Linked DNA regions of Homo sapiens. The protein of the gene in region 1 purifies or fractionates together with the protein of each later gene. This does not show direct contact. Each region holds a gene or a part of one and is shown on either strand. Other genes may lie near its edges.

Region 1 (7,000 bases):
CCGCAGCATCCTGGACCTTCCGTGGCAGATTGTGCAGGTATAGACCTTGATCCAAGGGGAGGGCAGTGGCTCTGCTGATGGCCCAGGGAGGGGGTGTCCAGCTGGGCCCTGAGGTCTGGGATGGGAGGGTTAGAGTGGGCCTGGAGTTTCCTGCCCATCGTAGGGAGGCCTAAGGCCCTGTGCTGGGAGCTGCAAGCTACCTGGAAGGTGGCCCCGTCTGTGGGTTCCAGTGTGTCCTGTGATGTGCTGTATGTCCGTGTGGCCTTTCAGATCAGCGAGACCAGCCAGGCCGGCCTGTTCAGGCTGTGGGCGCTCGTTGGCAGTGACTTGCACTGCATCAGGCTGAGCATCCCCCGTGTGTTCTACGTGAACCAGCGAGTCGCTAAAGCGGAGGAGGGTGCTTCGTATCGCAAGGTAGGGAGGAGCTGGTGCTGCCTCTGCAGTCATCTGGGCAGCCTGAGGTGGCTTTCCCATGATCTAGCCTGGCCTCCAGCCTCCATCTCCTCAGTACCTTATGGGGATGTTCTAGGAATTCCTCAAAACAACGTGTGTGAGCGCTGAGCACCGAGCCTGGGGCAGAGCGAGTGCCGGGAATGGAGCTGCTGGTGTCCTTGTCACGATGAGCTTGTCTGCCCGCGAGGTCCATGTTGCGGGGACAAACCAAGTGGCATTGGTTAGAGATTGTGAACTCTGTCTCCGTAGGCTCTTTGGTTGTTAACAGCTTTATTGGGATGTAAAGTTACGCCATCCAACTCACCCATTTAAAGTGCAGAATTCAATGACTTTTAGTGGCATGACTATTGCCAGTCAATAGTGACATTTTCTTTTTTTTTCTTTTTTTTAATTTTACTTTGATTTCTGGGATCCATGTGCAGAAAGTGCAGGTTTGTTACATAAGTAAGCACATGCCATGGTGGTTTGCTGCACCCATCACCCCGTCACCTGGGCATTAGGCCCCACATGCATTAGCTGTTTATCCTGATATTCCCCCTCCCCTCACCCCCCCATTCGGATATTTTCATCACTCCAAAAAGAAACCTGGCATCCCTTACCTGTCACCATCCTCCCCCAGCCCTCAGTAGCCACTGATCCACTTCCTGTCTCTGGGTTTGCCTGTTTGGGCATTTGATGTAAATGGAACCCTACAGTAGGTGGGTCTTTGTGCTGGGCTTCTTCCACCTGCAGAAACTGCGAGGGTTTTCATGTGGCCATGAGTGCGCTGAGGCTCTTAGATGGCATCTCCACCCGAACTCCCCGTTGTTAATGTGTCGGCTCAGCACATTTCTTGACTGGATGCTGTGAATCACGTAAGAAGTGACACGTAGTTGGGGAGATGAGGTGTGCATATTTGTACCTACACAAGGAGGTTTTCTGGAGAAGGTGAAACTCGATTCCAGCCAGGTGATTCAGTAGAATGTGCATATAGAAAGTAGACGCAGAGCCAGGTGTGGTGGTTCACACCTGTAATCCCCGCACTTTGGGAGACCGAGGTGGGCGGATAACAAGAGGAAAGCGGACGCAGAGGCATCGAGACCACAGAGAACAGGTGGGACTGTGGGGTTTCTACACCTTCCTTTCGATGCGTGGTGCTGTGGTGCTGTGGCCGTGTGGAAGTGCCCTAACTTTTGGGATGTTTCCCTTTATGACTATCAGCTCATCTCGAGGGAGGTTCTGGCGCTGTGTGAATATTCTGTCCTCAACGTTTGACTGGATGGTGTCAGCATCCATGTCTCGTGGGGTCCATGGGGCTCCAGGATGATATCTTCAGATTCTGTTCCTCTGTGTGTATTAGCTGTTTCCTTTATAACGAAGAGCTTTGTGCAGATCAGGTAGAAATGAACTCTATTCCTTAAAAAGCAAGATACGAGAGGGATAATACGCTTTTTTTTTTTTTAAGCAAGATAAATGCTTTTTCCCTTTAAATTATTTTTAATTTTCAAGGTAGGGCATGGCAAAATGGGTTTATTCCTTTCATTTTTCCTCTCTTTTTAAAGTATTACTATGGATTAGAGGATTTTTGTTTAACTTTTTTGTTTCTGTTTTTGAGAAGGTCTCTCACTCCATCACCCAGGCTGGAGTGCAGTGGCATGATCTTGCCTCACTGCAGCCTTGTACTCTTGGGCTCAAGCAATCCTCCTGCCTCAGTGTTTAATGTTTTAACATCAACCGTAGCCAAATCCCGCCCAACACACACACGTTAGGTATGTTAAGGTACACGGTAGGCCCTCACTTTATGTTGTTGATAGGTCCTTAGAAACTGCAATTTTAAGTGAAATGACTAAGTAAGATGATGTATAATGAAACAGATTTTTTTTCTTCTCAGAAACTATAATGAAACTGTGTTGGCCAGGCGCAGTGCTGCATATCTGTAATCCCAGCAATTTGGGAGGCTGAGGCTGGTGGATTGCTTGAGCTCAGGCATTCGAGACCAGCCTGGGCAACGTGGCAAAACCCCTTCTCTACAGAGTATTTTTTAAATTTATTTATTTTTATTTGTTTGTTTGTTTGTTTTGAGATGGAGTTTCTCTCCTGTTGCCCGGCTGGAGTCCAGTGGCGCATCTCGGCTCACCGCAACCTCCGCCTCCCGGGTTCAAGAAATTCTCCTGCCTCAGCCTCCCAAGTAGCTGGGATTACAGGCACGCACCACCACGCCCGGCTAATTTTGTATTTTTTAGTAGAGATGGGGTTTCTCTGTGTTGGTTAGGCTGGTCTCGAACTCCTGACCTCAGGTAATCCATCCACCTCGGCCTCCCAAAGTGCTGGGATTACAGGTTGAACCATGGCGCCCGGCCCCAGAATTTTTTTTTTTTTTTTTTTAAAGGAAGAAAGAATGTTGAACAAAATGATGTTATTTGAGGACCTGCTATACATTACTTCACTTAACCATCACAGTTTCCAGGAATCCATTGATGTTAAGTGAGGACTTACTGTAATTTACATATAGTTAAGTGCAGATTTTTAAATGTGCAGTTGATTGGGTTTTTGGACACATGACTATGCCTGTGTCACCCACACCCCCACCCAGGTGCAGAACGTTTCCATCACCCGGGAGGGTGCTCTTGTCCCCCTGTGCAACCTTCTGCTGGCCTGATTTCTGTATTTCTGTAACTGTGTGCATGTGACTTTCTAGAACTTCATATTAATGGAACCAGACAGTAGACTCTTTGGTGGTCAATATCTTCTTGAGACTCAAATTATCCCAAATTGGGCTGGCCAGATCCCTTCAAGCTGGCACCTGAGTCCTTTTGACATGCCCTGTTGGTCTTTGAAAACTTCCTTGCTTTTTGGCCACTAAGAGAGGCCAGGCTCACCTTGAACTTCCAGACGTGGAATTAGCTGTTCCTCTAAAGAGCCTGAGCCTCGTTGAGAGGTTATGTTGAGAAACCAAGCTTAGAGCTCAAGGGGTATCATTTCATCTAGATTCCTTCAGTGAACAGCCAGGAAATATATACATTTTAAAAAGTGCAATTACACTAATTGTTCCAGTTCATATTTACCAGAACATAATTTTTCATTTCTTTGATTTTGTGTGTGTGTGTGTGGGTGTGTGTGTGTGTCGGTCTAATTTCATGTTACTGGAAAAATCTAACCCTACTGGTTCTCTTCTCGCTTGAGAATTATTCAGATTTTCCTGGTTGTTGTTACGCCAAATAACGCTTTATTGCAACCTGGACATTTTACATATTTGAGACTTTGGGTATTTTTAAAAATCCTTTAGCGTGTCAGGTTTTTTTGTTTGTTTGTTTTAGCAACAACCAACACGGTTAATTCCAGTGCCCAAGCTCTTCCTTGCCTCTTTGTGCAAAGCTTCCAATGTCAGCTCAGCCTCCAGAGCCTCTGCTGCGTTGTTTTGGGTCACCTGTGCAAGTGCAGCTCGTAGTGAGCCTGGGACTTGTGCTGCTGGTTCATGCATGAAGCTAGGGTGCTCCTCTCCAGGATTCCCCCAGCCCCCCACACACGAAGCTAGGGTGCCCCCTCTCCAGCTCTCCTCTCCAGGATTCCCCCAGCCCTCCACACAGGGAGCTAGGGTACCCCTCTCCAGCTCGCCTCTCCAGAATTCCCCCAGCCCTCCACACAGGGAGCTAGGGTGCCCCCTCTTCAGCTCTCCCAGACCCCCCAGGACCCCACACAGGAAGCTAGGGTGCACCCTCTCCAGCTCTCCCAGACCCCCCAGGACCCCACACAGGAAGCTAGGGTGCCCCCTCTCCAGCTCTCCCAGACCCCCCCAGGACCCCACACAGGGAGCTAGGGTGCCCCTCTCCAGCTCTCCCAGACCCCCCCAGGACCCCACACAGGAAGCTAGGGTGCCCCCTCTCCAGCTTTCCCAGGCCCCCCCAGGACCCCATTCACGAAGCTAGGGTGCCCCTCTCCAGCTCTCCCAGACCCCCCCAGGACCCCACACAGGAAGCTAGGGTGCCCCTCTCCAGCTCTCCCAGACCCCCCCAGGACCCCACACAGGGAGCTAGGGTGCCCCCTCTCCAGCTCTCCCAGACCCCCCCAGGACCCCACACAGGGAGCTAGGGTGCCCCTCTCCAGCTCTCCCAGACCCCCCCAGGACCCCACACAGGGAGCTAGGGTGCCCCCTCTCCAGCTCTCCCAGACCCCTCCAGGACCCCATTCACGAAGCTAGGGTGCCCCTCTCCAGCTCTCCCAGAGCCCCCCAGGACCCCACACACACACTCTGGCTCCCCCAGGGGCTCTCTTTCCGTTTCTCTGACTAGGAAAATGTGATTTCTCTCAGTTTTTGCCATCTACACCCTCAGGTTAAACCCATGAGAGAATGGAGGAAGATGAACTGGGAACCTCCCCAGATCAGTGTTGACTGCTGTATTCTGACAGCTCTTGTCTATTCTCAGAGGCTGCAGGTTGCTTTTCAAAATTGCGTCCAGAGGCCAGGCATAGTGGCTCACACCTGCAGTTCCAGCGATTTGGGAGGATCACTTGAGTCCAGGAGTTTGAGACCAGCCTGGGCCTCATAGTGAGACCTCCTTTCTACAAAAAAAAAAAAAAAAAAAAAAAGCCATCCGTGGTGGTGTGTTCCTTGTCCCAGCTACTCAGGAGGCTGAGGCTGGAGGACCACTTGAGCCCAGGAGTTGGAGGCTGCAGTGAGCTGTGATCACACTGCTGCACTCCAGCCTGGGCAACAGACTAAGACCCTGTCTGTAAAAAATAAATAAATAACATAAAAATTACATCCAGAGTTTTTAGTTGTAATCATTGAGAGAGGTGGACTGTGGCGTGGTGGGTGTACCCCGTCGCTAGGGGCACCAGAAGTCTAGGACTCCGAATAGCGTGTGCTTTGTGTGTGTACCACAGACATTACCACTTACGCCCAGTGACGAGATCATCGTCGTATTCTCGCCAGGTAAATCGGGTCCTTCCTCGCTCCAACATGGTCTACAATCTCTATGAGTATTCAGTGCCAGAGGACATGTACCAGGAACACATCAACGAGATCAACGCTGAGCTGTCAGCGCCAGACATCGAGGGCGTATATGAGACTCAGGTGACTCCCCAGCCACCCTCGACTGAACTGGGGGAGGCTCCAGCAGGGTGGTATGGAGGAAAGAAACCCGCCCAGGGTGTGGGCTGGGGAACAGCAGCGACAGTGGACTCGTTCCCACAGGTGAGGTGAATGTCAGCAGTGTGTCTGCCAAAAGTGGCCTTTGGGCAGTGGGCCGGGCAGCTGCAGGGGCACAGCCACATCCCGGGCAGAAGTCACGTGGGCAGCCAGAGCCCCCACCATCCAGCCCTTGCCGGCCTGTCTGCCCGATTCTTCCAGGTTCCGTTACTGTTCCGGGCCCTGGTGCACCTGGGCTGTGTGTGTGTGGTCAATAAACAGCTGGTGAGGCACCTTTCAGGCTGGGAAGCAGAGACCTTTGCTCTTGAGCACCTGGAGATGCGCTCTCTGGCCCAGTTCAGCTACCTGGAACCAGGTATGGCCTGCACCAGCCGCCCATCATGTGCCTGCCTCCCACACATCTGGGGTGACGGTCTTGTTTCCTTCTCCAGGGAGTATCCGCCATATCTACCTGTACCACCACGCACAGGCCCACAAAGCGCTCTTCGGGATCTTCATCCCCTCACAGCGCAGGGCATCCGTCTTTGTGCTGGACACTGTGAGTCCTGGGCCCTCCATGGCAGCACATTGGCTGGGGCAGGGTTTGGGGAAGGAGGACATCTCCCAGGGTGCCCAGGCCCTCCAGGTCTTGTCCTCAAGGGCCTTTGCCCATGAGTGCTTGTCGTGATTGAATTGGCAGTGCCGTGGCAGTGGTGGAGTCTGCCCCAGGGCTGCCCCCACTTCCTCCTGCGCAGGGGGAGGCTGACGTGGCCTGCGTTGGTCTAGGTGCGCAGCAACCAGATGCCCAGCCTTGGCGCCCTGTACTCAGCAGAGCACGGCCTCCTCCTGGAGAAGGTGGGCCCTGAGCTCCTGCCACCCCCCAAACACACCTTCGAAGTTCGGGCAGAAACTGACCTGAAGACCATCTGCAGAGCCATCCAGCGATTCCTGCTCGCCTACAAGGTGAGAGTGGTTGGGGTCTTGCTGTGTGAGCCCCATCTTCTTTGAGGCTGGGTCCACCCAGGTCTTTTCTTCCATTTTGCCTTGACCCAGGAGGAGCGCCGGGGGCCCACACTCATCGCTGTTCAGTCCAGCTGGGAGCTGAAGAGGCTGGCCAGTGAAATTCCTGTCTTGGAGGAATTCCCACTGGTGCCTATCTGTGTGGCTGACAAGATCAACTATGGGGTCCTGGACTGGCAGCGCCATGGAGCCCGGCGCATGATCCGTCACTACCTCAACCTGGACACCTGCCTGTCGCAGGCCTTCGAGATGAGCAGGTGAGCACAGTACTGTCGTTGTGGGCCAGTGGTCCCCAGGCAGAGCCGGCCTCGGTGGTCTCTGTGACCCGGCGATGTGCCCCGGTGCTGACCTGTGCCCTGGTGCAGGTACTTTCACATTCCCATTGGGAACCTACCAGAGGACATCTCCACATTCGGCTCC
Region 2 (4,305 bases), about 76 Mb from region 1:
ACATATGACGTATCAAGTGAGCTGAGATGACAGTCCTATTACTGCTCACTTACCTCTATATATGGCAACTAGTAGAACTGGGTATTTATATCAGAAGCCTTAGAATTATCCTTGTAGAATATTGAATTTTACAAAATTATCTGCAATCCACTTATGCCTCCTTTTATTTCTCCTTCCAGGAACCTTGACACTCTCCTTGGTCGTCTCAGGAAATCTTACTTTTTTTTTTGTTTTGTTTCTTTTTTGAGATGGAGTCTCGCTCTGTCGCCCAGTGGCTGTGATCTCAGCTCACTGCAACCTCTGCCTCCTGGGTTCAAGCAATTCTCCTGCCTCAGCCTCCCAAGTAGCTAGGATTACTGTATGCACCACCACACCCGACTGATTTTTGTAGTTTTAGTAGAGACGGGGGTTTCACCATGTTGGCCAGGCTAGTCTCGAACTACTGACCTCAGGTGATCCGCCTGCCTCGGCCTCCCAAAGTGCTGGGATTACGGGTGTGAGCCACTGCACTTGGCCAGGAAATCTTTTCAACATAAATTATTTCTCAAGGAAAATTTACTTTGAGGTTTAAGACACATATATAGTTCTGCCATATTTATTAAATGGCTCTTGAAGTATTTGATCTGTGGTTGAAGGCAGAAGATATCCACAATGGTTTGAGGAGCTCTGTCTTCAGAAATCTTTTTGTAAATCTAAAATAGAATAGATAATATATGGAAGAACAGCAAAGGAAACAAAACAAAGCCCATTTACTTTTACATTCTTTTTTGCCTAATGCTTCTATTTAACACACATCATGCACAAAGATTTGCTTACACATTTGCTGAAGTCCACATCATAGGCTGAGCTAGTATGGAACAGTGAGGATACAAAGGACTTAATACGGCCAGTTGCAATGGCAGCTTCAACCAGGCTTTCCAAGCTCAGAGTTGTTGTTCATCCAATAATCACACATATGAGTGTCTACTGAGTAGAGCATTATCTTAGGCACTACTGCTTAAACTATCACATATTTAAATAAAAAATGAAGTGGCAAGATAATTTGTATTGCTATAACATTGTCACAGTTTTCTAGAGTAGCCTTCATCTCTTGAATAATATTCAATCTGCTGATTTTTTTCATATTGGCTTATACATATGCTCATATGTCTCCCATTTAGAGTACCCTTCATTTGACACTGCTATCCTCTTTGTGTTTCTTTCCAGTTATTATATGCAGCAGGATTTTATTAGTTTCCTACTGTACCTGACACTTGATAATCTTGCACTTTTCTTTCCCCTGGCTTCTATAACATTTTCCCTTCCATCTTTCATCTCTTCACTTCTAAATCATTAGCAAGTCTCAAGGATGGTTCCAGTATTTGCACCTTTCGGAGATCTCCAGTGCTACTGTTCTAGTGGCAATAGCGCAGTTGGCCTCTTGGGCTCTATTCTAGTCCCTGTCTTGCCCAGATTTATCTTTCTAGATAAAAACTACAAATCATGGCATTCCCTTCCTCAGAACTTTTAAAAGCTTCCTATTAAGCCCAAAACCAAGCCCAAACACATAAGCTTGGAATTCAAGGCCATTCAGTTTGCTTCTTTGGATTTATAGCCCATCACTTCTGGACACACCATATACTAGATTAGCTGTACTACTTGATGGCTTCCAGAGTAACTGGATGCTTTCCTGTCTGTCTTTGCTCTTGATGTTCCTTCAAGAATGAACAACCCTTGGCCTTTTTCCACCTCCATACCCTTTATCTTATCATATTTCTGCTTGTGGAAATCCTTCTCATACCTTATGGTATAGTATATTGGCATTAGGGATTAGAAATTTTTTTTTTTTTTGAGATAGTGTCTTGCTCTGTTGCCCAGGCTGGAGTGCAATGGTGCGATCTTGGCTCACTGCAACCTCCACCTCCCAGCTTCAAGTGATTCTCCTGCCTCAGCCTCCCAAGTAGCTGGGATTACAGGCGCACAATACCACGCCCGGCTAATTTTTGTATTTTTAGTAGAGACGGGGTTTCACCGTGTTGGCCAGGCTGGTCTTGAACTCCTGACCTCAGGTGATCCACCTGCTTTGGCCTCCCAAAGTGCTAGGATTACAGGTGTGAGCCACCGTGTCCGGCCTAGGGTTTTTTTTTTTTTTTGAGACGGAGTTTTGCTCTTGTTGCCCAGGCTGGAGTGCGATGGCACAATTTCAGCTCACTGCAACCTCTGCCTCCTGGGTTCAAGTGATTCTCCTGCCTCAGCCTCCCTAGTAGCTGGGATTACAGGCTCCCACCACCACACCCAGCTAATTTTTTGTATTTTTAGTAGAGATGGGGTTTTACTATGTTGGCTAGGCTTGTTTTGAACTCCTGACCTCAGGCGATCCACCTGCCTCAGCATCCCAAAGTGCTGGGATTACAGGTGTGAGCCACTGCACCCGGCTAGGGATTAGAATTCTTACAGCAGCTACACTGAAAGGAGTTCAGATACCACCATTTTCATATGAAATCTCAGAGTCCATCAGATAAAATCTCTTTCTTAGCATTTTGTACTTTTTTTTTTGTATTAAGTTAGTACTTCTTTTTTTTTTTTGAGATGGAGTCTTGCTCTGTTGCCCAGGCTGGAGTGCGATGGTGTGATCTCAGCTCACTGCAACCTCTGCCTCCCCGGTTCAAGCGATTCTCATGTCTCGGCCTCCTGAGTAGCTGGGATTACAGGTGCCTGCCACCACGCCCAGCTAATTTTTTGTATTTTTAGTAGAAACAGGGTTTCACCATGTTGGCCAGGCTGGTCTCGAACTCCTGACCTCAAGTGATCCAACTGCCTTGGTCTCCCAAAGTGCTGGGATTACAGGCGTGAGCCACCGTGCCTGGCCAAGTTAGTACTTCTTAAGGGCAAGGAGGCATGATGTTAATTCATCTTTGTCTCCCTTATAGACCTGATACTTAGAATGTGTTTAATAACTATGTGTTAAATTGAATTAAGGAACCTCAATTTCCAAAACATTAAGGATAGTAAGATAAATCTGTAAATTTTGGGAGGAGGGCAAAGAAAGACTAGAACTCAAAAATTGCTCATTTCTACTAATAATAAGATCTAACTAGATAGAAGGGAAAGGCATAGCGTCTTACCACTCTTCTTAAGAAGTTCTCCTTTTCGGGATTTATCCAGATTTTCAAGAAAATGTTCAAAAACTTTCACATAAGGTGCTAGACTGGTCTTCTTATAATCTAAATTATGAAGAATGTACATTATAATTAGCATACTGGCAGCAAGAATAACATGAAAACACAACTAAGTTTCTTATAAGAATTCTCTAGGGCTGCCCAATTGAAATATGAGAGAAACATACATACTTTTAAATACTATATTAGTCACATTAAAAAAGGTGAAATTATTACTGAGACAGGATTTCACTCTGTCATGCAGACTGAAGTACAGTGGTTCCGTCTTGGCTCACTGCAGCCTCGATCTACTGGGCTCAAGGGATCTTCCCATCTCTGCTTCCTGAGTAGCTATAACTACAGGCATGTACCACCATGCCCAACCAATTTTTTTTTTTTTTTTGGTATTTGTAGAGACGAGGTCTCACTCTGTTGCTCAGGCTAGTCTTGAACTCCTGAGCTCGAGTGATCTCCCAGCCTCGGCCTCTGAAAGTGCTGGGATTACAGACACATGCCACCATGCCCAGCTAAAATATTATTTTTGCATGTAATAAAAATTGAGATATATGATACTCTCTTTCATACAAGTCTTTTATATTTATATATATATATATAATATATATACATATATTTTCTTTTTTTTTTTTTTTGAGACAGAGTGTCACTCTGTTGCCCAGGCTGGAGTGCAATGGTGCGATCTCGGCTTACTGCAACTTCCGCCTCCCAGGTTCAAGCAATTCTCCTACCTCAGCCTCCCGACTAGCTGGGATTATAGGTGCCCGCCACCACAATGAGCTAATTTTTTGTATTTTTAGTAGAGATAGGGTTTCACCATGTTGGCCAGGCTGGTCTCAAACTCCTGACCTCATGATTCACCCACTTTGGCCTCCCAAAGTGCTGGGATTACAGGCGTGAGCCACCGCGCCCGGTCCATGCCTTTATTTTTGAGTCTTGCTCTGTTGCCAGGCTGGTATGCAGTGGTGCAATCTTGGCTCGGGAACCTCCGCCTCCCGAGTTCAAGCGATTCTCCTGCCTCAGCCTCCTGAGTAGCTGGGACTATAGGTGTGTGCCACCATGCCCGGCTAAGTTTTTGTATTTTTAGTAGAGACGGGGTTTCACCATGCTGTCCAAGATGGTTTTGATCTCTTGACCTCGTGATCCACCTGCC

What was found. Proteins that work in one complex are often made in the same cells at the same time.
Region 2: the proteins of POLE (region 1) and PRIM1 fractionate together in Homo sapiens (co-fractionation; 2 studies listed by BioGRID). This does not show direct contact.

The regions. Positions count from the first base shown.
Region 1 is NC_000012.12:132,642,343-132,649,342, reverse strand, and holds part of POLE (DNA polymerase epsilon catalytic subunit A), read left to right. Parts: coding exon 1-37; intron 38-270; coding exon 271-414; intron 415-5,316; exon of another isoform or gene 5,317-5,365; coding exon 5,366-5,506; intron 5,507-5,782; coding exon 5,783-5,936; intron 5,937-6,012; coding exon 6,013-6,119; intron 6,120-6,346; coding exon 6,347-6,523; intron 6,524-6,613; coding exon 6,614-6,837; intron 6,838-6,945; coding exon 6,946-7,000. UniProt on the Homo sapiens protein: Catalytic component of the DNA polymerase epsilon complex. Participates in chromosomal DNA replication.
Region 2 is NC_000012.12:56,731,043-56,735,347, forward strand, and holds the end of PRIM1 (DNA primase small subunit), read right to left. Parts: intron 3,204-4,305; coding exon 3,105-3,203; intron 693-3,104; coding exon 673-692; 3' UTR 538-672; downstream 1-537. UniProt on the Homo sapiens protein: Catalytic subunit of the DNA primase complex and component of the DNA polymerase alpha complex (also known as the alpha DNA polymerase-primase complex - primosome/replisome) which play an essential role in the initiation of DNA synthesis.